Homo sapiens: one gene and its partners. The protein of the gene in region 1 interacts with the protein of each later gene in a pairwise test. Each region holds a gene or a part of one and is shown in the gene's direction. Other genes may lie near its edges.

Region 1 (7,100 bases):
TGTCGCCCAGGCTGGAGTGCAGTGGCACAATCTCAGCTCACTGCAAACTCCACCTCCTGGGTTCACACCATTCTCCTGCCTCAGCCTCCCAAGTAGCTGGGACTACAGGTGCCCGCCACCACACCTGGCTAATCTTTTGTATTTTTAGTAGAGATGGGGTTTCACCGTGTTAGCCAGGATGGTCTTGATCTCCTGACCTCGTGATCCGCCCGCCTCGGCCTCCCAAAGTGCTGGGATTACAGGCGTGAGCCACCGTGCCTGGCCTGTTCAATTTCTAAATTAATTTATTAACTCATTTGACAAATATAATATATATGGCATGATTACTGTACACCATGCACTGTTGTAGGTTCTGAGACTGGAAGGACAGCCTCATGAAGCTAGTCCAGTAGGGGATAAAGGAAGGAATCACAGCATGAGCAGGTGGTCCAGGGTCCTGGCCAATCTCACCATCCCTGGTACTGGCAAGGGTAATAATTTAGTAATAATCAGAATTTAAATAAGAGAAAAATCTTGGAGGCGAGGATAATAATTGCAACCCAATTGTCAAGGAAATAAGAAAACAGTATGGACTGGAAGTTATAGAATATGAGGTTTCAGGAATATGCAGTGTGGCCAGTAAAGAGAGTCATTGTTAGCACGAGCCAAAGACTGTCAGGGAGGTTTGCAGTTAACAGTATTAGCATAGGCTGGTGTGATGGGTCATGCCTGTAAACCTAGCACTTCGGGAGGCTGAGGCGGGAGGGTCACTTGAGCCCAGGAGTTTGAGGCTGTAGTGAGCTATGATTGCAATTGCACCACTGCACTACAGCCTGGCTGATGGAGCAAGAACTTGTCTCTCTTAAAAAAAAAGAAAAAAGAATATTAGCATAAATCTGCAATGGGTGAAATAAGGAATCTTATGGAGACAAAGCCCCCACACACTAGTTTTTATAGAGGAGACTGTCTCAGGGTAAGAGGCAAAAGCAATTTGGAGTTCTCTGGGGCTTTTCAGGATCTTCCTTCCAAGAGCAAGTTTTGTTAACTCTTACGAAAGAAAGGAAGAAAGAAAATAACGTCATCCAAAATGACACATTAATTGCTTAAATTTATCTTTTTCAATAATTTTCTTTGATTTGTATTTGAAGAATGGCAATGTGCATTTCTGTAGCCAAATTAAAGTCTGAGAACACCATATTGGATAGGTCCGTGGTGTGGATAGAAGAAGGCATTGAAGATTTGTGAAAAGTGGGGGCTGAAGAACCTTATGTCTCGACGTAGAGTTGAAGCACAAACGTATTACTTAATTATCCTTCATTAACTTCTGTATGTGCGTGTGTATTAAGATGTGTTGAATATATTCATGGGTGTTGGTATTCCTGCTTCAGAGGTCCTCCTGTCCAGACAACTACACTGTCATCTCCCAGAACTAAGAGAGAAGTTTCTGGTTCATGTGAGGATTAAACAAAATAATCCTATCTTAAACTATAAGGACATGAAGGACTATAAAAAAACAGAGGCCATAAAAAATGCTCAATAAACATTTAGAGTCAGGTTATTTTACAGCTGGATGGAAGAATATGTAAAGCTTAAAGAAATTGCAGATGCTGTAAAAGACTATAGATATCACTGAGTCCATTTTCCTCTCTTCGTAACTGACAGAACTGGTAGTCACAGAGAAGTACAGCATCATAATAAATTCACGTAGAATGCTTGTGGCAAATCTATTTTATTTATTTATTTTTAAATTTTAATTTGTTATACCTAATGTGAAGCTTTAATTTAATTTATTTATTTAAAAATTGTTTTCAGTGGCAGATCCATGGGAACAGCATAGCTACCTAGATTTCTGAGTTTTAAAATCTATCAATTGTCCGTTTACACAACTGATAGATTGTGTAAGTAATGTAGCAGAAGGTAAGTTTCCATTCCATTCCATTAAGTGCCTGCATTGATTTATACTCTGTTTTCTTAAAGATCCCTTTTAAAGATGATAACTTCTCCCCTTTTGTGTCAACACAAAATACTGAGCTTTCTTGTTGAAGTACTTTTCTTCTCCAGCCTGAAATAAAGATCTAATAACCAATGGTCCCCATGACTTGAAAGATCTTCTTTTTTTTATCTTTCACTGTCTAAGGAGGCTGAAAGGGAAACATCAGCCGCCCGGGGGGAGTTAAAATGAGTGACAACACTACTCTGCCTGCTCCAGCTTCAAACCAGGGTCCTACCACCCCACGCAAAGGCCCTCCCAAGTTCAAGCAGAGGCAGACTCGCCAATTCAAGAGTAAACCTCCAAAGAAAGGTGTGAAAGGGTAAGACCAAAATGAAAAGAAAAACTTTCTATTACTTTCTTTTTCCCACAAGACTGCTTTTGTTTTGGGAAATTGGTGCTCACAATATTAAACAGACTTACAAAAATTTCCACTCCATCCTCTCTTTTCCTCTGTAACTCCATCTTTGATGAATTGTGTCTTTATCCCTGGAATTCTTTCCTTCTCAACTTCCAGGTCTGTGGCCGAATTTAACATGGCAAATAGAGGCTTTTTACAATAAACTTTGACTTTGCCTTGCAGGCTTTTGATGACCACTCCTCTTTACTGAGACAACCTCTACGTTAATCTGTAACACTGAACCACTGACCATTTCCAGAAAATATAGCTTATATTTATGTCTTCCAATTTTGTATCCTCAGTTCTTTATTTTCCTCTTCCTCTCCTTGGCAAAATCCTATTGATTTTTCAACACACAGATCATATGCTAATTTCTTTTTGAAGCTACTCCTGACTCTCTTTAACAAACTATCATTACTTTCATGTTTGCATTTTGTACATTCAGCTATCATAACTTACATTATATCTTATATTTATTTATTTGTATCTATTCTCCGAGGCTAAGACCACTCAGAAAATTTGTCTGTTTTCTTCTTAACTCTCTGTGCTTAATAAAATGCCTGGTATATAATAGATGCTTAGTTAATGATTTTGAATAAGTAAACAAATGGATGAATTCATCATTTTTAATGCCTTTTGTATTGCTTTCTCATTTCAATTTTTATTATAAAAAGTGAAACTTGACTAAGTTGTCCCACTGATGGTTCTTTCTGACTCTTAATTGTTTTAGGTTAAGTTCCTACAGGAGAGAAATATCTCTCCAGTGGGATACACCAAAACCTGCCTGAGTGACATTTTCTTTGCTCCAGTTCAGGGCAAACTAAAGGAGTTTCTCACATACAAACACTTAAACCTCTCCTTCTTCCCCCTTGAATCAAGAAACTCTCCATGTGAGTGACTCCAAAATTCTTTTGCTCTAATCTCAGCTAATTTCTCCTTTATTCTTTTCCATAGATTTGGAGATGACATTCCAGGAATGGAGGGGCTAGGAACAGGTAAGCCATCCACTGATTTAAGTGAGAACTTCGCACTTGGAGTTCTGCCTTTTTATATACTTCAGGCCTCAAGGGGCAGTTGAAAGTTATGAGAAATACCCAAGGCAGAAGATCTGTGAAGACATAGAAATGTGGGGATTTAATTTACCCTCGAAATAAGTACATGTGTGCCCAGATACAAAAGCCCTAAAAGAAATCAGGGTAGGCCCAAAATTTCATAAACCTTCTTGTTTTGTCAAACAACCTTTGAGGGCATACAATGATAAATTATAGACTTTTATGGTAGAAAGATTTTCATAATTCATCTCCCCAAACTTCATTTTTCAAGGGAGAAATCTGAGACATACAGGAATTGGCAGTCTTTTGTCTGAGGCTACCAAGTGAACTATTGGAAATAAGGGTGAGGTCTGGAGATCTCTCCACTCTACCTGGCAAACCACTTCCTTACCAATTTCCTCTTTTTACACATCCTCTAGCACCCAGAGGAGGATCTTACATACTGAATGCCTGCAATATAATTTTAAAAATTGGTTACCAGATTTTTATGTATCATACAATGAATGCAATCACTGCATATTTTTTAAATTAATAGACTTTATTTCTTAGAGGAGTTTAAGACTTACAGAAAAGTTCAGCAGAAAGTAGAGTTCCTATATGTCCTCTCTACCATCTCTCTCCCCTTTTACACAGTTTCCTCTATTATTAACATCTTGTATTAGTGTGATTATATTTGATGAGCCAATGTCGATGCAGTATGTTAATTAAACTCCATAGCTTGAATTAGAGTTTTTATCCCTTGTGTTGTAAAGTTCTAAGGGTTTTGATAAATACCATGTACCCACCATTATAGTACATATTGCAGTACATATAGTATCATACAGAATAGTTTCGCTGCCCTATGCTCCACCCGGTCATCCTTCTCTCTCTCTCTAAACCCCAGACATCCACTAATGTTCTTACTGTCTCTATAGTTTTGCCTTTTCCAGAATGTCATATAGTTAGACTCATACAGTATACAGCTTTTCTGGACTAGCTTCTTTCATTTAACCATATTCATTTAAGGTTTCTCCATGTTTTTATGTGGCTTGATAGCTCATTTTTTAAAATCACGGAATGATACTCCATTGTAGGGATATACACAGTTTTTTATCCTATTGAAAGATACCTTGGTTTCTTCCAAGTTTTGCCAATAATGAATAAAATGCCCCTAAATATTTATGTGCAGGCTTTTGTGTGGACATATTTTCAACTCATCCAACACACCTTTGATAAACAGTAGCACTTGTAGTAATCAGTGTCCTTCCCAGGCAATCCTCAGTGTCTCTTTCTGCAGGCAAATACCAATCCTGGGATCTTGAATGAATTTTCCAGCCATGTTATAAAGCAAATTTTCTATTCTTTTAGATCAACTGCTTCCGTATTTTGGCAAGGTGCATACAAGACCAGCAAATTTGCTTTGGGATCTGGAAGATATGCTTGACTCTGACAGTGTATTTGGAATAATGTAAAGAGGTTTATAGGGAGTGAAGGTCTGAGGTCTTTGACCTGGCTCTAGTCTCAGCTCTACAACTATGTGGTTTTTGCTAATTATTTCATCTTTCTGTGTGTCAGCAAGCTTCTTTGTAACTCAGGGATAATAACATCTTATTGTCTAAAACAAGAAGCTGGATTAAAAGATGCTTTGTGATCGTTTCTCAATATGTGATTGGATATAGGCAATTCAAAATGTAAAGGAATAGAAGAACAATTAGAGAAGAAACCGATCTAGATTGGTAGGGAAGACTATGGATACCTAGACCAGGGAGATTCAAAGTGCTCCTCTTTTTCATTTTAACCCTTGGCCTGACTAGAATTCCACTTCTGCCTCCTCCTTAGTGGTTGTGGTTTGGGGAGACTCTGTGTAATCAGTGGGCTGTACCCCACAGGGAACCCCCCAGTCAACAGCTGTGGATCACCTCCCCAAAGAGGAAGCAGAATGAAACCAACAGAGATGCCTGGTGCAACAATTAAGCAATTGGTCTGATCCTTCCTGGGCCACAGGGCCACGCTAGGGAACTTCCCAGTCAGGGGACAATGAGCAGGAGAGAGGAGTGAAGTGTCTCTGCCTGAAGGGTGTCTTTCTGTGAAGAAGCTCTCTTGGGGTGAGGTTGGCTTACGTGCTCTTCTTCCATCTCTTGCAGATATCACAGTGATTTGTCCATGGGAGGCATTCAGCCACCTGGAATTGCATGAGCTCGCTCAGTTTGGGATTATCTGAAGTGCCAGAGGTTCTGCCACTCTCAATGACATCTGCTGTAATTTTGGTTGCTTTTGCCCTGTTGATCTGCCGGAGTCTTGAAATTCAGCTGATTGGAAGTGGTTTCTTTGACTTTCAAGGTCATTCCCTATCAGTTACTACTAAGAGTTCTCTTACTGTCAGAATCTCTCTTGCAGTACAGCTCAAAATAGTGGATGCATTTCAAACTTGACCACCTTTTCCTACCAGCTAGTTAGAAGTCATCAATATTTCTCTACATTTTGTTTATCTGTAAGTCCTTTAAATCTATTTTTGCTAGGCATTCATTATGATTAATAGTAGACTTTTAAGACAACATTTATGTCACTCCCCACCTCCTCATATTTAATAAAGGAGATATTTACCTTGAATGTTGGTGAAGTTGTATTAAATGCTACGTAGAAATATCTGATGCTGTGTTCTGAGAACCAATTAAACAAAGAAGGCACAGTCATACAGGAAATAAGTGCAGTGCTTACAAAACAGCATAGCATTAAGATTTGAATTCTGTAAGTTTGTAAATTGTATAATTTCCGGGTCTAAATTTTTTTTTTTTTTTTTTTGCGACGGAGTCTCACTCTGTCGCCCAGGCTGGAGTGCAGTGGCACGATCTCGGCTCACTGCAAGCTCCGCCTCCCGGGTTCATGCCATTCTCCTGCCTCAGCCTCCCGAGTAACTGGGACTACAGGCGCCTGCCACCATGCCTGGCTAATTTTTTGTATATTTAGTAGAGATGGGGTTTCACCATGTTGGCCAGGATGGTCTCGATCTCTTGATCTCGTGATCCACCCCCCCTGGGCCTTCCTAAGTGCTGGGATTACAGGCGTGAGCCACTGCGCCCGGCCACTGGGTCTAAATTTTATTGAACTAGGTTATTCCAGAAGTCTCATGCAGCTCTAAGTTGTATAGTTCTAAGTTGGTGAGGAACTGGGATTTAAACTCAGAATTCTGACAATGTGAGCCTTCTTTTCGGTACTCTGGTTGAGGAAGGTTTCCTTCCACGGCATCCCTTCAGTGAAATTATTTTGTCCAATGACTTAAAATGAGAGTCACAGGAGTTACATACATTGACTGCTTTGTGTACATCTGTAGTAAATCTAATCTTTAAACTGTCAATTGAAAAGATTTATATGCTGTAAGGTTTAGACTCATATGCAAAGGATAGGCAGTTGACCCTCTAAATAAAATGGATGGTTTGCCTCACCCCTGAAGTTGTGTCAATGTAATGTGCTCATACTTATCTTTTCTCAATACTTTCAAGGCAATTGTGCAACTCAAATGCTGCCTCTATGTGACTTGGATGCTTTGGAACTAACAGTATGAATTTCTTCATTTCAGTTTTGAAATCTGTGGTAAAAGAATGGAGTAAATTAACCGAAGAGAGAGACAGGATGATAGAGAAGTAAGAGATTCAGGTTCTAATCCTGTCTCTACCAGTAAATTGCAATATAATTTTGGGCA
Region 2 (7,776 bases), on another chromosome or scaffold:
TTGAAGCCACCACCCAGATCTGGACATGGCGCAGATGTCCACCCCTGTCGGATGGGCTCTAATGCTCTGCGATTCATGATTCTGTTTGCCTGATCACATTATTCTTTCAGACGCTTTCGTGTTCTGTCTAGACCTGCGCTGTTGCTGGCCACGTGTGGCCACTGAGCGCCTGAAAGCGCACCCAGCCATATCAGTGTGTGCCGTATACCCGGAGGGCACACAGCGTTTCTAAGGCTGGGTTCAAAAGAAATGAATGTAAAGGACCTCGTCAGTACCTTTTAGCATTGATTACATTGTGGAAATGACAATATTTTGCATATATTGGATTAGATAAAATACTATTAAAATAAATGGCACTGGTTTCTTTCTTACATTTTTCAATGTGGCTAGTAGCAAATTGAAAATTCCCGGCCAGGCAAAGTGGCTCACGCCTGTAATTCTAGCACTTTGGGAGGCCGAGGTCAGTGGATCACTTCATCTCAGGAGTTTGAGACCAGCCTGGGCAACATGGTAAAACCCCATTATCTACCAAAAAAAAAAAAATTAGTCGGGCATGGTGGTGTGTACCTGTAGTCCCGGCTACTTCGGTGGCTGAGGTGGTAGGATTGCTTGAGCACAGGCGGTGGAGGTTGCAGTGAGCTGAGATTGCACCAGTGCCCTCCAGCCTGGCAGCGTGGGTGACAGAGTGAGACCTGTCTAAGAAAAAAAAGGAAAGAAAGAAAATTCAAAATTCTGGCCTTTGGGAGGCCAAGATGGGTGGATCGCTTGAGCCCAGGAGTTGGAGACCAGCCTGGGCAACATGACGAAACCACGTCTCTACAGAAAAATACAAAAATCAGCTGGACGTGGTGGCTTGTGCCTGTATTTCTAGCTATTAGGAAGGCGGAGGTGGGAGGATCGCTTGAACCTAGGAGGTTGAGCCTGCAGTGAGCCGAGATCGCACCACTGCACGCCAGCTTGGGTGACAGAGTGAGACTGTGTTTCAAAAAAAGAGAAATTAACATTCTGTGTGTGTCCGCATTGCTCTAGGCCCTGGAAGTCTCCTTCTGATGAAGGACTTGCCTCCTGAGTCTTGCCACCTGCCCCTGCCCCCGTGGGTGTTGGTGGCATGTGGGTGCTGGCAAGTGCTGTGTCTTGAGGTGTGTGTGGTGTAGGGGTGGCCACGCTTTGCATGCATATGTTCCCTCTGGTTTCCAGCCTCAGGTGCAAGGCAGACTTCAGCTGCTCCACGCAGGCTCCCTCCAGTTTCAGGCATTGCTCCCAAGTCAGAGTCTGTCTGCCCAGAGCTGTTTTGCTCAGCTTCTGCCTCGTTTTGAAAACATGCAATGAAGCCCACTCCCCAGTGGTGCTTGCAACTCCCTTATCTCATGGGAGCCGCTGGAAGGCGTGGAGGTGGAGAGGTGTGGAGGTTGTTGTCAGTTGGTTTTTAGGCTGAGGCTCAGGTTAGACATTTTGGGGACATTCTGTGGAGTCCACGCCCTGAATGGAAGGTGCTGGCTCACCTTTGTAAGCCTCTGGGGGCTTGGGAGCACCCCGTGTAGGATGGAGGCCTGCTAGTACCCCCTCCATGCGGCCTGACCACCTGGGCCCCTGCAGAGTTGCTGCTGGCCCTATAGAAGGTGGGAGCGGCTCGGTGTCCACTCAGGAGCAGGCTGGGGTCCAGCTCTGGCTGCAAGGGAACTGACCACTGTTGGTCACAGGCCCGTCTCACCGTCTCACCCATGTGTCCACGTGACGTCCAGGCAATGGGCCCGTGCATGACCAGTCTGCCGGTGAGGTGACAGCGGGGAGCCGATCCCAGGGGGATGATTGGATGGAGATGTAGACACTTTATTTGGAAGGTGCTAGGAGTCACTGCCAGGCTCAAAGAACGGGGAAGGGGTGGACAAGACACAGGAGCAGCACGAGGAGGAGACACAAAGAGGGGAGGGAAGCTGATGGGCAGGGGGGAGAGATGAGCGGACCCAGGTGCAAGGGTGGAGAGCAGTGGGCTGGGGCATGACTGCCGCTTAACCAGCCTCATGGTGTCACTCGCCGAGCCTCAGTTTCCCCTTCTGAATTGAGGGGCAAGAGATGACCTCTAAGGACCACCAACCCTGCTGTCTATGAGGCCATGGTGATACTAAGGCCCAGAGGGAGCCCGGACCTCCAGTGTCCTCCGTCCATCCCTTCTCTCTGCTCGGCTTTGCACTGGCGTGGGCTGCATCGAGTCCCAGGCTGTACACCTTGGCAGTCACGCGGCGGGGGCTCTCGTGTGAGGACGGGAGCAGAGCCAAATGCACCAGCTGTCAGCCAGACTGAAGGTGAAGGGAGCCAACAGGCTCATGTCTGAATACAAGGTCTTCAGCCCACCCCTGGAGGCAGTATGTCAGGATTCTTCCGAACAGAGAATCTGGGGTCTGTTCTAAAGGGGCCTAGAGCATGGCCATGGTCACTGTATCTTCAGAAATGTTTAAAGTTTTGTCTTTCTTGGTCATTGGAAGAGGCAAAAAAGGAAAAAAAAAAAAAGCAGGAATGAGGGAAGACTCAATTTTGCACATTCTCTCTGTGTTCCCCTGAGGATAAATTGGAAACGAAATAGGAATACAGGACTTTTAGGTATGAGCCAGTTCAGTGTGTTAAGACACTTGCTTTCTAACCCTTTGCTTTTTGGCAGTAATCGGATTGCTGGACGACTTGTCTTTTAAGACCTCTCTAAGTACTGATGATAAAAACAGCCCTTCAACAGGGAAAATAACCTTCCATTCTATTTTCTACCGAGCAGAGAGGAAAGAACATCAGCTGAGCCAGGAGGGTTATCAAGTTGCAGGATGACCCTGTTTATCTTGTGAGACTCAGTTTGCTTTAAATGTTTTCAGAGATCATATGGTTGCTTTTGTATATACTTTTGTTTGTATAACTTGGAATCATTTTTCTGCTAATCTTTTGATTTTAAATATGTCTCTGGTATGTAGTACAAGGTTTGAGGGTTTTTTTTTTGTAGTTTGAAACATAGCATTTTTAAAGATAATTTTGTTCATTTACATTTATTGTTATGTTTTACTAGATCTGCTGTCTGTTTTGCTTGTTTTTGTTTCATTATAATTTGATTTCCTAAGTACTTGTGGTTTTAGGTTGACCTGTGCCTAGCTCCATGTATCTTTCATTTGAGATTTCTTAGACCTTATCAAACTTATTTTTCTTTTTTTGAGATGGAATCTCGCTCTGTTGCCAGGCTGGAGTGCAGTGGCGCCATCTTGGCTCACTGCCATTTCTGCCTCCCAGGTTCAAGCCATTCTCCTGCCTTAGCCTCCTGAGTAGCTGGGATTACAGGCTCGCGCCACTACACCCAGCTGATTTTTATATTTTTAGTAGATTAGGGTTTTCACCGTGTTGGCCAGGCTGGTCTCGATCTCCTGACCTCATGATCTGCTCTCCTCAGCCTCCCAAAGTGCTGGGATTACAGGCATGAGCCACCATCCATGGCTCTCAAACTTATTTTTCTTAATCTAAATCTTCTAATAGCTAACCGACTGGAACTTCAAGTGTTCTTATTTCTGTAGATTGCCATATATAGCTATCACAAAGCAGAGGAACTTTGGACTTTTCTTCTATAAGCATCTTAAGCTGTTGGCTTCCTCCTTCTGAAAGCTCTCTGCCCCTCCCTCATGCCGTGGGGCTCAGGGTTGAGAAATACATTAATTCTCAATTCTCCTTTCTGGCTCTTACATCCAACTTGTGTTCTTTCATTGCACGGATCACATACACTTAGTAACACACTGTAGTGGGGTGGGAACAGAAAGGATCTCAAGGGTGTTCTGTCATTCTGGGCAAATCTCTCCAAGCCCAGCCCATGAGTCTTATCTTCAAAAAGTAAAATAAAATAAAGTTAATATACTGAGGGCTGAACGAGAACATGAGTGAGGCTGTTCCTGGCACACATCAGCTGCTTGATAAAAATTAACCTCCCGTTCTCCACTTTGTTAGTGTTCTCAGTGGCTTTGCGCGCCAAATGCATTGTCTTTTTATTGTAAAGCTTGACTTCGGGATGCTCCTGGGCTCATCATTCTTGGCAATATGGCGACTTTTTTGTTTTTTATTTTTTAATTGTGGTGGAATTCATTTAACATAAAATGAACCTTTTTATGTTTATTTATTTATTTTGAGACAGATCTCACCCTGTCGCCCAGGCTGGAGTGCAGTGGCGCGATCTTGGCTCACTGCAACGTCCGCCTCCCGGGTTCAAGCGATTCTCCTGCCTCAGCCTCCCCAGTAGCTGGGATTGCAGGCGCCCGCCACCACGCCCGGCTGATTTTTGTAGTTTTAGTAGAGATGGGGTTCCGCCATGTTGGCCAGGCTGGTCTCGAACTCCTGACCTCAGGTGATCTGCCTGCCTCGGCCTCCAAAGTGCTGGGATGACGGGCGTGAGCCACCGCACCTGGCCTGAACCATTTTAAAGTGTACAATTCAGTGGCTTTCAGAACATTCACAGTGTTGTGCAAGCCCTACCTCTGTCTGGTTCCAAAACTTTTTCATCACCCCAAAAGGAGATGGTGGCTCTTTCAAGACGCCAGCTTTGGCATCAACTGGACCTTCTGGTTGTCTGACTTCGGACAAGCATTGTAATTTCCAGCCTTTGTTTCCTCACCTTTAAAATGGAAATAATGTTGATCACCTTACGGGCCTTTTTAAAAAGAACTTGATTGAGGTATGATGTATGTACCTCAAAATCAAGTCATCCTAAGTGTACTTTTTCAGTACTTTTTCGTGAATTTGTGGAGTTGTGCACCCATTACCACAATCCCAATTTTAGAACGTCTCTATCATTTCCTGTTCCCATCTCCAGCTCTGTGTAACCACGAGTCTGCTTTCTGTCTGTATGGGTTTGCCTTTTTTAGACATTTATACCAATGGCAGCTGACAGTACATGGTCTTCATGCCTGGCTTCTTTCACTCAGCATCCTGTTTCCGAGGTTCATCCATGTAGTTGCGTGTGGCAGCGCTTCATTCCTCTCTGTGGCTGAGGAATATTCCATTGTGTGGACGGACCGTGTTTTGATAATCCACTCCTCTGTTGATGGACATAGGGGTTGCTTCCACCTTCCATGATTCATATTTACTACTGTGTGTCATTCTCAGTACTGTGGCACTGTGCTGGTACACATAAGTGCTTAATAATTGTGGTTAGCCGGGCGTGGTGGCTCACGCCTGTAGTGCCAACACCTTGGGAGGCCAAGCTGGGCGGATCACTTAAGGCCAGGAGTTTGAGACCAGCCTGGCCAATGTGGCGAAACCCTGCTTCTACTAAAAATACAAAAAATAGCTGGGTGTGGTGGCAGACGCCTGTAGTTCGAGCTACTTGGGAGGCTGAGACATGAGAATGGCTTGAACCCTGGGGGCAGAGGTTGCTGTGAGCCAAGATTGCGCCACTGCACTCCAGCCTGGGCAACAGGCTTTTCTCTCAAGAAAAAGAAAAATGGTGGTCATTGTTTATGTTATTTCCTTATGGGCTTTTTTTTTTAATGTGGATGATTTTCTTACCTTTAGACGTGTTATTTGTGGTTTTGATAGCTTTTTTTTGTCAAGCTGTCCGTCATCGTTCTGAAATTTTGTTTGTTAAAGTCTTATGATCCACATATGGCAGTAACTGTGTATCATCATGGCTTAAGGGTGTCTGATAAGCCAGGTCACCTGGTTCCCTCATTCATGCCACAAGCGTTTACTGAGTGCATCATGGGTGCCTGCGGGTTCTATGGGTGAAACCTGTGTACTGCAAGAGGAAAGACTGACTGCATCCATTTTGCTGAGCCCTGTAGCCCCACAGCCTGGCGTGGTATTTGTTGAAAGAAGGCAGAGCCTCTACCCTCGTGTAACTCAGTGCGGGTGGAGAGCCCATGGCAGACCCAGGACTGGAGGCTCCTGCGTCATTAGGAACATTGGTGGCTGAAGCTTGCTTGTCCCAGCTGGCGAGAGCCAATTACGCCTGTCTCCTTCCACCTCCACGTATGGTGACATCACTTTGATAGCTTGACGTCAGCCACTGGGGGACTATTTACATCATGGATATGGGCAAAAGACACCAATCTGAGCTTTTGTCCTTTTCTTTTTTTTGGAGTGCCTGCACACCCGTGAGCCTTTCCAACCTCGTAACCTATTATTTTCCTGACGAGATAGTTTTTTACAGATGAGAAAGTTGAGGCACAGAGAATTGAAGGGACTTGGCCAAGGTAACAGCCCAAATTCAAGCCCCAGCTTCCTCGGGCCATCCCCACGGACATGGGAAGACGCAGCATCAGATCTGCCCCACTCCCTCCTCCCAGTCAGGTTTTTTCTGCCAGATGACTCTGCTGTTCAATTTCCATTGACTCTGCTGCTGAATTTCCATTGACTGACTCTGCTGCTGAATTTCCATTTCCATCTCTCATCAGGGTTTTCAGTGCTTTGCTTCCCAGTGTGTTGCCTGAGCCACCCTCACATCCTGTGCCTTCCTTCTTAATAGGAACGCTGTGTTTTCCTTTGTTCTTGCAGAATTTCGCTAAGGAGTTTGTGATCAGTGATCGGAAGGAGCTGGAGGAAGATTTCATCAAGAGCGAGCTGAAGAAGGCGGGGGGAGCCAATTACGACGCCCAGACGGAGTAACCCCAGCCCCCGCCACACCACCCCTTGCCAAAGTCATCTGCCTGCTCCCCGGGGGAGAGGACCGCCGGCCTCAGCTACTAGCCCACCAGCCCACCAGGGAGAAAAGAAGCCATGAGAGGCAGCGCCCGCCACCCTGTGTCCACAGCCCCCACCTTCCCGCTTCCCTTAGAACCCTGCCGTGTCCTATCTCATGACGCTCATGGAACCTCTTTCTTTGATCTTCTTTTTCTTTTCTCCCCCTCTTTTTTGTTCTAAAGAAAAGTCATTTTGATGCAAGGTCCTGCCTGCCATCAGATCCGAGGTGCCTCCTGCAGTGACCCCTTTTCCTGGCATTTCTCTTCCACGCGACGAGGTCTGCCTAGTGAGATCTGCATGACCTCACGTTGCTTTCCAGAGCCCGGGCCTATTTTGCCATCTCAGTTTTCCTGGACCCTGCTTCCTGTGTACCACTGAGGGGCAGCTGGGCCAGGAGCTGTGCCCGGTGCCTGCAGCCTTCATAAGCACACACGTCCATTCCCTACTAAGGCCCAGACCTCCTGGTATCTGCCCCGGGCTCCCTCATCCCACCTCCATCCGGAGTTGCCTAAGATGCATGTCCAGCATAGGCAGGATTGCTCGGTGGTGAGAAGGTTAGGTCCGGCTCAGACTGAATAAGAAGAGATAAAATTTGCCTTAAAACTTACCTGGCAGTGGCTTTGCTGCACGGTCTGAAACCACCTGTTCCCACCCTCTTGACCGAAATTTCCTTGTGACACAGAGAAGGGCAAAGGTCTGAGCCCAGAGTTGACGGAGGGAGTATTTCAGGGTTCACTTCAGGGGCTCCCAAAGCGACAAGATCGTTAGGGAGAGAGGCCCAGGGTGGGGACTGGGAATTTAAGGAGAGCTGGGAACGGATCCCTTAGGTTCAGGAAGCTTCTGTGTAAGCTGCGAGGATGGCTTGGGCCGAAGGGTTGCTCTGCCCGCCGCGCTAGCTGTGAGCTGAGCAAAGCCCTGGGCTCACAGCACCCCAAAAGCCTGTGGCTTCAGTCCTGCGTCTGCACCACACATTCAAAAGGATCGTTTTGTTTTGTTTTTAAAGAAAGGTGAGATTGGCTTGGTTCTTCATGAGCACATTTGATATAGCTCTTTTTCTGTTTTTCCTTGCTCATTTCGTTTTGG
Region 3 (7,776 bases), on another chromosome or scaffold:
TCACTATGCTTTACACAATGAGCCACTTCGATGCACTATATTTTCACATTTTTTAACTCTCATTTTCATGTTAGTGTGTAGGTGGCTTTGGTGTTTTTCAGACCCAAGTTACGTTCATATATGCCCCTCCTGCTTTCCTTTGCATCTGGTGTATACCTGAACATATTTAATTCTGTATTATTTTTTGCTTGCAGATGTCAAATTAGTCTATGTAACTCAAAGGCTTAGGTTTATGCCTTTCCAGTCAAGCTGCTGTTATGGAAAACAAATACCCAAGCAATATGAACTTACGGATATGGAGGAAGGGAGACATATTTGGGACCAAGGCTCATTAGTAGGTTAGGGTCTGCTGTACCTACCCGTCTGCCAACATCTATCTGCCAATATTCCCAGACTTTCCTGTTTCTAAATGCTGATTTAGATAAATGCTTTTCTAACCAAAATGAAGCAGTATGGTATTTAAGTCAACCATGGAAATAAGCATTAACATATGTGCCCCCACCTGAAAGACATCAGGTTAGGTTCGATTTGAATCAGGCAGGAGGCCAGATGCAATCAAGTCCCTGAAGTCTGGAACTCCACCAGAAGAAGAGATCAGGCTCCCCTGCCCCAGGATCCTCCAGACTGCAGAAGATCTAGGGAGGTCAGAATAGAGCAGGGCTCCCACATCTTTGATAAAATGTGATTTTGTAAACTAGAAGAAAGGGGGAAATGGCAAAAGCAGGCCTTTCTCTAAAAGGTCTAATAAACGGGATGATGCCGGGGTACTTTCCAGGCCTCCCTCATGCCATCTCTATCTCTACGATTACATCACAAGCCCCAGAACACCCTGGCTCTACACGCAAGGCAGGCCACACACTGGACTGCTTGCATAGACCTAGAGCAGTTCAGTGGCTCAGTGAGGACTTGCTATCCCAACTGGACCAAGTTGGAAGCCCTACATGGTATGTGAGATCACAGAATTGGTATTTGATACCCCTGGAAATGGTTGCATCGTCATTTCACCAATACAGCTACACTTTCCTCTAAGGCCTGTGGGTTTGACATTGATCCTTATATGTTTATTTGTTCATGGGCTTGTTAGAAAGCTTTTAGATTGAGATTTAGGCAAAAAAGAAAGTGAACTTGGTTTTTAGCCGTAAATTTCTCTAGACCATTCTTAGGTCAAACTAACCAGCTTCCTTCTGCAGAAATTGTTCAGTGCTACATGGGCATGTGAGAACAAATTTTGCGTGCTCAGTGCTAAGACACTTTCTCCCACCAACTCTACCTTTCTCATAACAAGATCTTAAAAGATGATTTCATTCCCTCAGTCCTTAGGTGCTGTCCTGTCCTCAGGTGCTGATGTCTAATCACCACACTGTTTGGTTCAGTCACCTGCTATCATCCCTCCAGTTTAGGGGTTCTGTCTCTTTAATCAGCAGGCAAAAAATTCAGACTCAGGCTTTTGACCCTGCAAAATGGAGAAGCATGTACTGCTTTTGAATTTTTAAAAAAAAAAAAAAACAGTTAGAAATTTGACACTAAGACATCTAAGCAACTGGGTGGAGATCTGAAGTAGCAAGTGAAAATGATACCATTAATGATATTGATGATGGATGTAAAGGCAATTGCAAACAATTGGTTTTTTGTTCTTAACTCCAGTCAAACACTTACCAAAACAACTAAACTGGTTGGACTTCAACAATCTAAATGAAATCTTGAAGCATGAATGTATTTCCCATGCAGTATGGAAAGGAAGAGAGAGAGAAAGTAGTTAAAAAACAATCTCCATTCCTACCACACACCTTTGGCTTGCATTGTTCACCACCTTTTAAAGTAATGCCTGATGTGTTATATGCTGGTCCTCCAGAAATTCTAAACTTTCCCCAGAAGTGACCTTTGTTCTCCCAGTGCCTCACAACACTCTTAAATACCAAAGAGCTTCAGGGGGCAAGGACAAGAATTTTCTAAAGGAAACCCTTCTCCACTTGCACTGGACAGGCTGTCAAGACCCAGCAAGACACTTTGTCATGTTATCTCACTCCACATTCGCTTTCTCTCCTTGTAGCTACCTCATCCCTGAACTCCCAGCTCCAGCAGCTCCAGCTCCAGCTCCAGCAGCAGCAGCAGCAGCAGCAGCAGCAGCCTCCCCCGTCAACCAACCAGCACCCGCAACCAGCCCCACAGGCGCCCTCGCAGTCCCAGCAGCAGCCGCTGCAGCCCACCCCACCCCAGCAGCCACCACCCGCCTCTCAGCAGCCGCCAGCTCCTACATCTCAGCTGCAACAGGCGCCTCAGCCCCAGCAGCACCAACCCCACTCCCACTCCCAGAACCAGAACCAACCATCTCCAACCCAGCAGAGCTCCAGCCCCCCGCAGAAACCTAGTCAGTCTCCAGGACATGGCCTGCCTTCACCGCTCACGCCACCCAATCCTCTACAGGTATGCTCCCCGTGCTTCCCGTCTGCCCCTAGGAGCACCAAGGACCTTTCCATGGGGTGGTGCCATCCCCAAAGGCAGAGGGACCACACAAAACTTAGCATCCAGTTCTGCAGCATCTAATTCAAATTGATCTCTTAGACATAGGGAAGAAGAAGCAACTAGAAGGCAACTGGGGATGCATGTAAACGAAACAAATAGAAGCCCATTTCTGTTGCCCTCCAAAGGATAAATGTTATCTGTTTCCTTCTGTGAGAGGCCAGCACTATAAGTGCATTTGGAGCCTGTAATAATTCCATTTTATGATACTTTTTGAAGGCAGCAAAGATAGCATCCAATTAAAATTATTACTAGCACAGTTTTGTAGCCCCATGGAGAACTGCATCTACTGTCCATGAGGCATGGTGGTTATTTCTCTATATTATGAATACAACAGTGTCTCACCTTAAGTACTTTGTGCTCTTTTGTTTCTATTTTTCTAAAGACTCTCTGGGGTTAGGAGGGCAAAGAAATTTAGCCCCAGTCTTATGTCCCAGATTCCAACCATTACTCCACAGACTAACAAGTACTCTAAATTCATGCCAAGAGCCTCAACCAATATGCATCTTTATAAAGGAATAAAACTTCTATAGGTTTACTTTATTACTGTGAGGCTGAGAGCTTCATAAATAGATATTTCAGGCTAACCATGAGAGCTCATCTATAACCTACCTATTGAGAAGGAATGGATAGGTGCATTCATATATATATATATATATATATGACTTTAAACTTCAGAAAACCATTTTTAACTTAGGTGTCTTTAAAATAAATTAGCTTCAAAACATAATGACTGTGATGTCATCATATCAGATCCAGAAATTAATAACTCAGCCAAGCCATCCATTCTTTGACTTGCACAATGACATTTTTCCCTGTGAGATTTCAGACAATCTCGTGTATTTGTAGTACTGTGACAAAGTTAAACAGAGTGAGCAGCCTGTGGACCTGTTTCAAGTGCCATCTCATCCCCTTGCCATAGTGGTGGGTATAAACCTCAGTCAGTCCGGCTCTCCCCAGCCTGAGAATGACAGTAGCGATGGTATCCTTGGCTCCTAAATAGAAAAGTATACAAAATAAAGACAGGTTGGTACACGGACAGAAAGGCAGGTGGATTAGAGACTTGGTATTTTAGAACTTAGTTTGTTGTCCCATAGCTTTGTCTCTTCCAATTTGGATTCTCAGTGGTGTGGCCCAAAGCATTCCTAGAAATGAACACATTTGGGAGAGATGAGTCATTGTGTTTTTCTGGGCTCTTGGGCCAGGGCTACTTTCAATTTGAACATTTTCATGAGTGGAGTTTCAAGATGTATTTATACAATTCTTACGATGGTGAGACAACGTAACACCTTTGACCTAGGACTAAAATGAACATGGTCCAAAAACGTCTTCATTGTCCACTTGACACCTACTGAAAGAGCAGGTGTCATCAAATTTACAGAAGGCATGATTACAGCAACCTTAATGTTGGCAGCATTTGGGATTCAACTTTATTATTCCAAAAAATTAATTTAATGCTTTTTAAGAACACTTACATTAGATGTACCTATATACCATCTAATTTCTCTATTCCAGGCACCAAAATAGGTAAAATTACCAAAGAAAAATATTGCCCTTCCTTGAGGAGTGAAATTACTTAGGTGTGTCCCCAGTTGTCCGATATAGTCCAGTATTCCTTCCTGTTAGGTGAAAGTTTTGAGCTCTGTGGACCTCAGCCTTCCCTGAACACTGTCAGTGTTTTATAAATTTCTGTTGGCCAGTGAGATCCCAGTGAAGACAAGCCCTGTTGAATGACTGTTGACAGGACTTTAGATGAAGTGACCACGCAGCCTCATGAAAATAAACTTAGGGGAATTTCCGAAAGTTCTCCTAACAGTTTCTCGTGGAAATCCCAGGGCTGTTTGTTTTGTTTTGGTTTTGCAACAAATGAAGGCTCAGAGCTACATTTCTTTCTTTGTAACACTGAGAGAATATTCTAATTTTTCATTTTTGAAGTTTTAACTTATAAACTTAATAAATATGTTTAGAGTACATTTAAATATAGAGGAGCTGTTACTCTAACTTCTGTGGATCTAACAGATGACCACCAAATGAGTGACTTGCTACAAATTTTTTTTAAAACATTACTGAGAAGATGTTAAACAAATCTGTGTCGGTAGGCATAAAAGGACTTTTTTCCTTTACTACAGGCATGTATAAAGGAAATAGAGAATATTTTGGTTTAAAAAAAATTTTTACACTAGCTGCAGGCTTTTTGAGTTTGTGGAACATGGAATGTTTGAACTTTTTAAAAAGAAAACTGTTTAAAAGGAATTGCAAAGATATTTAACTCTCCAAACTAATGATCTTTATAAAGTGTTTTTGTTTGAAGATTATTAAGGGAATAAAGATCAACTAAATTCATGTATGATAGCCTAAATTTTATTTTACAACCCTTTATTTTCATGTGGGCTTTATCTTTTTACATTATTCAAAAATCTGCTGGAGAGATATTAGTTTAGAACTATGCAATGTAGATTACCAGGGAAAGCCAGTCAATTAGGTTTTTTGCTTTAAAAACAAAACTTTGGAGGACAACAATTATTTCTAAAACTGTGCAGATGCTCCCATATCTTTAGAAAAAAATAAATGTAAGTAGGTTGTGTGTTATATTTGGGTGAGGTCATTTCCTGAGATGAAAAAAAATTAATAGTGTTGGTAGGTAGTAACACTCTAAACAAAAATTATCCAAATACCTCGTATCAGGCTTTTCTGCAATATTGCAGTGTAATTTTATTTTACTCTTTTACTGAATTCTGTGAAAAGGATTACATTTACAAAACCAAGTTGTTTTAAGATAGATAGGAGTCTAAAGTATTATCCTTTCAGAGACGCACAGGTAGGGGGATCACTTTGTTTATTAATTTTGATCACTCAGCATTATAGGAGGTCTGGTGGTCTAAAGCAGACTCTAGAAGCTGCCCCTGGAGATCTGTCTATAGATTCTCCATTGAGACTCAGGACCCACCCACCCATGGCTTCGTTCTTGCCCAGGAGGCTTGAGGAGAGAAGTTCTAGACAGGAAATGCAAGGGCAGAGGTCTTCAGGGCCTAGCAGTCCCTGTAAATAAGTAAAGTAATCTTGGTTGTAGAACCCAAAATCAAATTTATAAAAACAGTGTGTGGGACAAACAAGATGCACTGTGAGCTGAATTTAGTCCTTGGGTGCCAGGATGGAGAGCAGTCCATACTCCTTATTTTTGCTCAAACCCACAGTCCACAGGCTGTGCCTGAATCTAAAACTAAAAATATAGACTGTGTTTGATAGAAGCAGAAACATAAATGGAAGCAATCTTTTGGGGCAAAAAACATGATCTAGGTAAAAAAAAAAAAAAAATTCAATACGTAATTTTAATCTGGATAGAGACCCCATAAGCATAAGAATGGTGAAATAAAAGCCTCCTTTCTATGACCTTTAAGAAGAATTTTCTTGAAAAGAAAACTCCTTGGGAGTTTTTATTTGCACTGGTAAAATTTCAGACATCTTATAAAAGCCCTATTGTGCACATATTCCCTCTTGAGTGGTCTGGAGATATGCTGGGCATGGTTGGAGCCCAGTCATGGTGTAGGTGGAAGAGGGTAACCGGAGGGCTTGAGTCCCCCTTCTAGTTCTGACCCTGCCTCCAACTAACTCATAACTTTGGATAGGTCACTTTAGCTCTCTGGACTTCATTTCCCTCATCCGTGTGGTCTGAGGTCTTTTTCAGGCCTATGAATCTATAATCTCAATGTTAGTAGGCCTCTGGAATTTTATTGGCTATTGAAAACTTGATGGTCCTGAAGATTCTCTGAGTATTCTTCAAGGTCAGGTTAATTTCTTCCCACTCAGCTGGGTGGCAGAGTGAAAAGAGAGTGGAGGACAAACATAAGTGGGATAATGATAGCAGAAGCAGATTTTATCTTAGCCAGAGAGTCCAAATTAAAGTCAAGTTTTTATCCTCAGAGAGTCACTGCTATAAGCTCTGGTCCCAGATTGCTTTTCCACACCTATACATTAGAGAAGCTTAAGAAACCAAATGCTGCATTTAACCTTGGCCTCCCACGTACCATCTTGCATGGCAGGACGCAGGATAATCTTTTCCTTTTCTTGTTCTATTGCACATTTTAATAAATAACAGAGGGAGAGAGAGATCAGTAGGAATTGGACAGTGAAAACTATCTGTGCTTATATGAGGAATGAGGGGCACGGTCACCTCCTCGGAGGTGAAGTTGCTTGAGAGCGTGAAATGTATTCTCAACCATGTGCATTTGCTAATGGAAAGGTCTAGTTACCACTCAGGCACAGCAGAGTAAAACTGCATCGGAATCCCACCTCTGTTGCGCAGTGGGCATTGCCTTCTGGTCTTCCCATTTGAGATATTTTCCCACTGGCAAACTTAGTACTAAGTTCCAAAGTGCATACATAATGGGAGAAGGTGGTACATTATCACTTTTTAAAATAAAGAGCCCAAAGCCTTGGGAAGGAGCTAGACCTACGGGACTTTCAAGTTCTCTAAAGCAAATGGTCTCCAATCATGGGTCTGCCCTATGGAAAAGACCCAGTGTCCTAGGCCAAACCCCCTCCCCCCCCAGCAATTAGTCTTAATCGGTTTACCACAATATTACTCAAGGCTCTGTGGGACTAGGTTTGTTTTTTCATCTATAAAAGGGAGGGGGTAAAATTAAATACTTTCTAGAACTCCTTCAGTTCCATTGGAGTTTTATGTTACAAACCCCTAAAACTGTGTAGAGTTGGGTGACTCTGTGGGTGTATTCATATAACTCCTTTGTGTGGCTACTGTAAATATAGAACTCAGACATCTCTCTACCTACACAGGGCTAAATCACTACGCAGAATTCTCCTAGCCAGGACTGAGATGATGGTGAGGCTTGGAAGCACTCATCTCAGATGCAGAATTTAAGGGTGTACTCAAAAATTCAGATAATGTTTGAATGAAATATTTTCAAAAATCAAAATGAACGCCAAAAGTCTATGAACAACAAAATTTCAAATTTTTAAATGCAGGATCAGTAACAGTATTGAGCCATATTGGAGTCTGAGGCAAAAGAAAAAAATCAGTCATATGAACATTTAGTGATCATGAATTTTTGGCACTCATTCTTAAAATATTGTAGTAAGGTCTTATTCATCTTGATTACTACGTTTCTGGACACACCTTTAAATTTGGTTCCTGAAATGAGTGCCTCATTCATCTCACCCTCATCCCTCTCAGCTTTGCTACTGGCTGTCTAAATGATTTAGTTAGCAAAAATCCGCCAAAGTCAATGACATTCTGTC
Region 4 (7,776 bases), on another chromosome or scaffold:
CATGTCCGTAAGTGCACCAGCACATGCCCTGTTGGTGAGTCTGGGAACCTAGAAGTCACCTGTGCTTGTTCTGCTTTCTCCCTTGCACCTTCATGTAACCCATGGTGCTCAGATGTGGTCATTCTCCCTCCCCACTGTGTCCCCAAGCTCCCTCCTCCTTCCCTGCTGCCCTCACAAGACATCACGTTCCTTCTCTGCCACAACCTCCTTCCTTGTTCTTCCTGTGACACCTTTCAGTCCATTCTCCCCATATAAGCAGGGTCAGTAAAACAACAAAATGGAAACCCAGTCATGCCCCTGCGTGCTAAAGCCTCCCAAGGGCTTTCACTGCACCAAGAATAAGGCGATAGCTCCTCTCCACTGCCACTGGAGCCCCACAGGACCTGGCCTGCCCACCTCTCTGGCCCTGTCTTCACTGGGCCTCAGCCCCACTGGCTTCTCTCTGCCTTTGATCAGTGCTTCTCAAGCTGCCTCTGGGGAAGAACCAATATATTTTCTTTCATTTTGTAAAATTTGTGAAAAACAACAAAAAATTGATTACTAGAAAAACGGTATGAAATATGAGACCAAATGTTTTATTACAGGATTCAACAGACATAAAACTCCCATCACATTGCTACAAACATTTCTGGGTTCAGGCATTACACCAAGTCATGGGTCAGTCACAGCAGTTCAGTGCAATACTCATACTTTGAGTTGCAGTGCTTTGGGACACTTCACCCTTAGGGCTCAGCTCAATCAACCTGCCTCAGTGAGACTGCCCCTGGTCACCACCTCCTGTCCCTGCCAACACTCTGTCTCACTACCTGACAGTCTCCTGTTCACTGGTTTGCTGCTTGTGGTCTACTCCCTACCTACACATCCTAGGACTTACACCCCAGTAGAGCAGGAGCTGCATGTCTTATTTGCTGCCATATCCCCACATCCCAGAATGGTGCCTGGCCTATACGGAGGACGTGCTTCACAAATATTTGTTGGCTGAAAGAGTGGAAGGAAGGAAGGATGGATGGACGGATGGATGGATGGATGGATGGATGGAAAGATGGATGGATGGTGGATAGATGGGTGGATGGTGGATGGATGGGTCGATGGAAGGATGGATGGATGCTTGGTGGATGGATGGGTGGATGCAAGGATAGATGGATGGTGGATAGATGTGTGGATGGTGGATAGATGAGTGGGTGGTGGGTGGAAGGAGGGATGGATGTTTCGTGGTAGAAGTATGGTAGATGTATGGATATATGGATGGATGATGGATAGATGGATGGGTGGATGGATGGAAGAAAGGGAGGGAGAAAGGAAGGATAGGCACAAGGCATGCTGAGACCAGAGGGAAAAAGAACTTCCTGCATTGACCTCAGAAGAGGCTTCTAAAAGAGATGATAAAGGAGTAGGCTCTTGAAGGAGGGGAAGGAGTTTTCTGAATAGAACAGTTGAGTTCTGGGGTTGGGGCAAAGGCACGCCGAGAGAAGATCAGCATAAGCAAAGATGCAGAAGGCTAACTGGCAGGCTTTGCACATGCCGTGCATGAGGCAGAGGTTTGAGAAAACTCTGAGGGTCTCCACGTGTTGTGGAAATGGGGCCTCCACTACTTTAAAAAGTGGAGAATTGAGCTCTGCATCTGCCATGATGATGCAGTTCTGGGTTCTGTGCCCCATTTTGCCTGATCAAGTTACAATAAAACCCATTCTCTGTCTCCCCTCACCACCCACCATCCCCTCGTGGCTGCCTCCCTTCCCACTCCTCTCCTTCAGCCACTCCATTCCCACTGACTGTGCCAAAGGCCAGCTGTCAGGGCAGCCCCTTTGCATGAAGCAATACTATGGGCTCTTCTCCTCCTACCGGCTCCCCGGCCATACCCAGGACACGCTGGTGGCTCAGAACAGCAGCATCATGCCGGAGCCTGAGCACGTCATCGTAGCCTGCTGCAATCAGGTAAGCAACCCCTTGTCTTGGTGAGGGAGGGCACAGAGCATACAGTGGCCATGCGTTCACGTCCATTACCTTCTCCGAGGGGGCTCAGCCTCCTTCCCTGAGTCACACAGGGAGCTGGGGCACCATGTCTCCAAAGTGGGGCCCCTACTTCCAGTCAGTCCCATGTCTCTCCACCAGTTGCCTTCTAAGAATGAGAGCCGTCAGTTTGAGAATATCCTCACTGGACTCTCACTTCAGCACTGATGCACTGAGGGTCATGATCGAGACCTCCACCTGTACATCTGTTCTTTTCCATGCAGTCACCCAGGCTCTGGCCTTTCTGGAGACCACACACAGACAGACAGTGTTACAGACTGACAAATAGGACCTTTCATGTGTCAGCCTGTGGGCTCAGCACTTAACATGCATTCATCCCACTTAATCCTCACAGTGACCATGCAGAGGGGGCCTTAGGATCTCTGTGTGACAGTTGAGGACATGAGACTCAGACAAGTTAAGTGGTCTGTCCAAGAGTGGGAAGGAATCCTGGGTCTGGCCAGTGCCCTAAGGTCATGCTCTACCCCCTGCAGCTCAGGTCCTCAGACTGGGTTCCACAGAGCCAACAAGGACCCATGGGTCCTGGGGGACAGGCTGAGCATGAGGGCTCCTGACCTCTTCCCTGTGCCCACTGCACTATATATTCCATATATTGAGCTTCACATAAATATTTCCTCTGACAAACAGTTTTGTTTTTGTTTTTGCTTTGCTAAAACCCAAGTTTGGCAACCATCCCAGGGACTCCCCTGGTACTTGCTCTACAATGTGATCCTGGGCTCTCCTCACATTTTTAGTAAGTTGGGAGCTCTGTGGAGCCCTGACATCTGAGGGCAGCTGTGACCTCTGTTCCTAGATTTGAAGGCCATCTAGGAGCTCTCGCAGCCCACCTGACACCTTGGCCATAGACCAAGGACGTTTCCCCATCTTCATTCAAAAGTCAAGCCAAGTATTTCCCAGCTCCCACAGGCCACCGTATCCACCTCTTCCAGACATGCTCTGGGCCCCTGCACAAGACCAGGCCATACAGACACTGCTAGGGGGTTGGAGGGGAAGGGAAAACAAGGTACTCATGTCAATCAGCTGAAAAGTGTATCTTGACCTGGGTCTAGGAATAGACCCTTCACAAAGCCCAAGGCTCTAGCCTTCAAAGCTACAAAATGACAAAACCACAGGGCTGACATACAAAGCACATGTAGGTATACATGTGAAGGTGCACACACATGCACACATGTGTAGGTGCACATGCACGCATGGTGTGTGTTGGTTTTCCATTTTAATCTTCCTCTGCATATGATTGCTGGCTTGCTTTTTTTCCTCCACTCACCAGTGTGTTTAAGGCCCATCACTGTGGCTCTATCTGTTGCTAATTCACTCTTTTCAATGGCTGGGTAGACATGCCCTAGACATATACACCACATTTCACTTAGCCATTCCCCTTCTGGAGAACAGTGAGGCTCTTGCTACCATTTTGCTGTTGCAAACAAGGCCGAGAGGCACATTCCTCGTGTCTTCCGGTACACACGGGTACGTTTCTCTAAGCCTCAGGCTAAAATATGCATTTATAAGTGCAATTGCTTAGTCATAGGTATGCACATTTTTAGTTTTGATAGACACTGCCCTCCAACAGTAGCTGTGCCAATTTATATTCCATTCCCCACAAACATAATGGATTCCGTGAACCATGAAACACATTTTCTTTTGGCTAAGTTTAATGTTGCCTTCTTTGATTGGGGGCAGCGTGGAATCCAGCACAGTCAACAGCCTTGGCTTGGTCCCTAAACTGAGACTAGAACCACCAAACACCTTGGGAACCTTGGGCCTGAGCATCCCTGCCCCAAGCTTACCTGTGAAGGCTGAGTGAAGGCCTGGTGCCACGGGCCACCCAACAAGTGACATGTTTGACCTGTTTACCCCACAGTTCTTTGTCTTGGATGTTGTCATTAATTTCCGCCGTCTCAGTGAGGGGGATCTGTTCACTCAGTTGAGAAAGATAGTCAAAATGGCTTCCAACGAGGACGAGCGTTTGCCTCCAATTGGCCTGCTGACGTCTGACGGGAGGAGCGAGTGGGCCGAGGCCAGGACGGTCCTCGTGAAAGGTCAGCCGCAGTGCCCAGCACATCTCCATGCCCATCTCATGCTCGTGCCCATTGGCTTTCCCTCCTCTAGGGTTGGGCCAGGGCCTCATCCCCATCAGCCATAGTGTGGGAGCTCAGGGCCCACAGCATGCCCTGCGGCCAGCCACAGTGCCTTGCCACCGAAGCCACCTTTTGTGCCCTCGTGTTCCATCTGACAGTATCTGGCTTTCTTGGTGGGACTAACTAGTGCTGGAATTGGGGATGTCTGAGAATACTGGGCGGGGCGGGGGAGTTAGCTGGAGGAAGGCTGGCTGCAAGTGAGCAGGTGTGTTTTCCTGGTGGGTGGCGCTCACTGATAGTGGCTGGGGGAGTCGCTGAATGGGGGTGTGGGATGGAGCCTGCCTCTGGGAAAGTGGTTCACCACCTCTTTCACCTGATCTCTCCATCCTGGGACTCTTCATCTTCAAGCTGTCCCTTATCTTGTGGCACTGTTCTGATGAAAGTCTCCAAGCATTCCCATAAGAAAGCCAGGAATATTCTTGAAAATTTTTCATCACCCTTCTGGAAACTACTTTCAAATCCAAAGCTGGTCCTATTCCAGGAGCTGATGGAATGCTCTCCTTCCTTGCCCATGTTAGAGACACTGGATGAGAAGCAAGACTTCTGTGAGTCTTTATTTACCCCTCAGAATTTTACTGGGTCAGGCAATCTATTCAGACTCTCCACATCTGTTACTGAGGGCCCTGGGCTTGGCTCAGGGAGTATGGGAGACAAAGGAGTTGAGGCCTCTACCCAAGAGCAGCCCCATGATGGGAACAGGAAGAGGGGGCATGGGGAGGAGACTCACATCCAGGTGCATGCAGTGCTGACCCACTTCAGACAGGCGTCAAAAACGTGCTCCAGGACTTCAGAGAGGGGACGGAGCCCTTCCGAGTGGGATTGTGAAAGGCTCTGTTAGAAGAGGTGGGAATGGAACAAAGCCCCATGGCATGAGTGAGAAAGGCTGGAGGGAAGGATGGTACCCAGGCAGGCAGACCAACCCTGGGCAAAGCCCGAGGCCCAGCAGGGACACACCCACCTTACCCCCAGGGTGAGGAGGAGAATAGCTGCCCAGCAAAGGTGGCCTGAGCCGGATGTACTGGGCCTATTTTTTCTAACAGCCACTTGCATTTTCTGGTCTCTCTCTAGAAGGGTCTTCCCCCAGATCCAGCTGGCTCCTTGCCGCACGCAGAGCTCAGCCCAGGTGTCCGGCCTCAGGCCTGCCTTGGGCATCCTTCCCGCACACTCTGTCACTGTGGCCCGTTCGCTTACCTTGACTCTGTTGCTCACTCTCTGAGGACAACTTTGCATTTGTTTGATAAATGCTGATTATCTGCCTTTCCCCCCACCTCCTACCCACTGCCTATAAGGTCAGAAGGACAGGGGCCTTGTCTGTTTGGTTTAATTTCTGAGAAACACAGTCTGGGCCCAGTTACATTTATTAAATAAAAGAGTGAAGGGTGATTAAAAATGCCAGGCCCCAGACTTATTCCCCGACTTACCAATTAATTATTCTTTCATCCAATTATTGGGCACCTCCTGAATGCTGTCATAAATAGGGGGCTGCAGGAGCCAAAGAGGGGTGTGAGAGCTGACTGCCCTCCCGGACCTAACCTCGTGCTGGAGAATTAATAACTTAGCATTCCGCAGTGAGTTAATTCCCTCGGGAGACCATGGTGTAATCAAATCCCACTCTTCTCCCCTTCAGGGACAGAGACAGGCATCAAAATAATCGCCTCTGCCTCCAGCATAGTTTCCACTTTATTAGCAGGCCAGGCCCAAGACACGCCCTTCAGGGCTGGCTGGATTGCCCCAAGGTCTGAGCACTTGGGCTGCAGATCAGAATTGATTTGTTAATGGCACTTGATCTGGCTTTCTGAATGGAAGTGCTGTTTCTGAGGGAAATGCGACAGAAAGGAGGGGACACATGCGCCTCCCCTTGGGTAATCCGATTAATCCAGTTAGCGCCAACTGTGTCATCTACACAACAGGAAACTGATCCTTCACAGATCCCCCCTCCCCAGAGCAGCCCTGCCTATGGAACAGAAACAGAGAGACCATTTACAAAATGATTTCGGTTTCCCAGTGAAAGAGTATGGCAGCTTGGGACAGGGTTGAGAGTGAAGATGGAGAGACCAGTGACGTCAAGGCCATTGAAAGCGAGAACAATTCCTGGGCTTTTTATCCGAGCCGTGAGTGGATGTTAGTGCCATTTAGTAAGATGGGAAACAGGGTCGGGGAGTGGGTACAGGATGGAGAAATCATTGCCACACATGTTGGGTTAGAGGTGCTTGGGTCATCTGGGTGGAGACGTCAAGCTTAATATATATGTTTGGAGCCCAAGGGAGAGGTCAGTACAGAGCAATAAATTTGAGGGACATCAGCGCATAAATGATCCTTAAAGTCATGGACCTGGGTGAGATAATCTAGAAACAGAAGAACAGGGAGCCTGGAGGTCAGGTAGAGAAGGATGCAAAGGGGATTGAGAAAGAGTAGCCCATGAAGTAAAGGAAAGCCAGAAGAGTCACAAAGATTCAAGACAGAGGGAACGGCCAGCCACATGGAATGCTGTGGAGAGCTGGAGGAGGAACAGGACACAGGGGACCCGGCTTGGCAACCCTGAAGTTGTCACTGGGCTTACTGAGGGTCAGACTGGAGTAGCAGGAGAACAAATGCTTGCACACTGACAGAAGTGATCCAACAGCAGAAAGAAATTGTCGATGAGGCAGTCAGTGAGTTGAACCAGTGAGTATGGTCGACTTTTTCTCAGACATTTTGACACTAAAAGGAGCAGAAAAATGAGGGAGTTGCTAAAAGAGGATGAGGGTCAAGGGAGGTGTTTTTAGGAGGAGAGACAAATGTATGGAAGGAATTTAGTAAAAGAAATTGATGAAGAGATAGGAGATGAATGGAGGGGTGGAATTCTTGCAAAGGCAAAAGGAGATAGAACTCAGAAAATAAGAGGCCTTTGGTTGGTACAGGGTGAAGTGGAAAGCTTGGGCCTGAGGCAGCAGAGGTAGGAGCATGCAGAGGCTCCCAACTGGTACCTCCTGGTCTCAGATCACAACCTTGAGATAAGAGGCGGGCAGTTGGATGTTGAAGATGAAATCGACTGTGTGAAATAGCCTCCTGGAAAGTGGGAAAGAAGACTTGAAAAACTTGATAAGATTTATGGACTGTGTTGAGCTCATATATGAAGGTTCAAAGTGATACATTTTAGGAGAGGCTAATTAACATTGTTATGTGATCTTCCCCACCAACGCTCAGCTCCTCAGGTTCAGCCAGAGTTGGTGAGTGTAACTGGTAGGGACGGTGAAGGTGTGGCCAAGAACGGTCATGCTGGAATCTGAGCTGAGTAAGGAAGTGTGTTCAAGTCTGCTCAGCAGGTTCAAGTCTGCTCAGGCAGCCGTAACAAAGTACCACAGACTGGGAGGCTTCAACAACAGACACCTGCTATCTTACAGTTTAGCAGGTGGGTTTCTCCTGACACCTCTCTCCTTGGCTTGTCGATGCCACCTTCTCTGTGTGTCTTCATGTGGTCTTGCCTCTGTGCGTATCTGCATCCTAATCTCTTCTTATAAGGTGACCAGTCATATGGGATTAGGCTTCACCCAAATGGCCTAGTGTAACTTAATTGTCTCTTTAAAGGTCCCATCTCCAAATACAGTTACATTCTGAGCTTCTGGGAGTT

Evidence for each region.
Region 2: the proteins of PDE6H (region 1) and COTL1 interact in binary tests that used the Homo sapiens proteins (3 or more experiments, as listed by UniProt).
Region 3: the proteins of PDE6H (region 1) and POU6F2 interact in binary tests that used the Homo sapiens proteins (3 or more experiments, as listed by UniProt).
Region 4: the proteins of PDE6H (region 1) and CHAT interact in binary tests that used the Homo sapiens proteins (3 or more experiments, as listed by UniProt).

The regions. Positions count from the first base shown.
Region 1 is NC_000012.12:14,975,856-14,982,955, forward strand, and holds the end of PDE6H (retinal cone rhodopsin-sensitive cGMP 3',5'-cyclic phosphodiesterase subunit gamma), read left to right. Parts: intron 1-2,116; 5' UTR 2,117-2,157; coding exon 2,158-2,291; intron 2,292-3,323; coding exon 3,324-3,364; intron 3,365-5,544; coding exon 5,545-5,621; 3' UTR 5,622-6,010; downstream 6,011-7,100.
Region 2 is NC_000016.10:84,565,687-84,573,462, reverse strand, and holds part of COTL1 (coactosin-like protein), read left to right. Parts: intron 1-6,507; coding exon 6,508-6,618; 3' UTR 6,619-7,776. UniProt on the Homo sapiens protein: Binds to F-actin in a calcium-independent manner. Has no direct effect on actin depolymerization. Acts as a chaperone for ALOX5 (5LO), influencing both its stability and activity in leukotrienes synthesis.
Region 3 is NC_000007.14:39,337,592-39,345,367, forward strand, and holds part of POU6F2 (POU domain, class 6, transcription factor 2), read left to right. Parts: exon of another isoform or gene 1-1,529; intron 1,530-2,050; coding exon 2,051-2,424; intron 2,425-7,776. UniProt on the Homo sapiens protein: Probable transcription factor likely to be involved in early steps in the differentiation of amacrine and ganglion cells. Recognizes and binds to the DNA sequence 5'-ATGCAAAT-3'. Isoform 1 does not bind DNA.
Region 4 is NC_000010.11:49,623,719-49,631,494, forward strand, and holds part of CHAT (choline O-acetyltransferase), read left to right. Parts: intron 1-1,754; coding exon 1,755-1,935; intron 1,936-3,889; coding exon 3,890-4,067; intron 4,068-7,776. UniProt on the Homo sapiens protein: Catalyzes the reversible synthesis of acetylcholine (ACh) from acetyl CoA and choline at cholinergic synapses.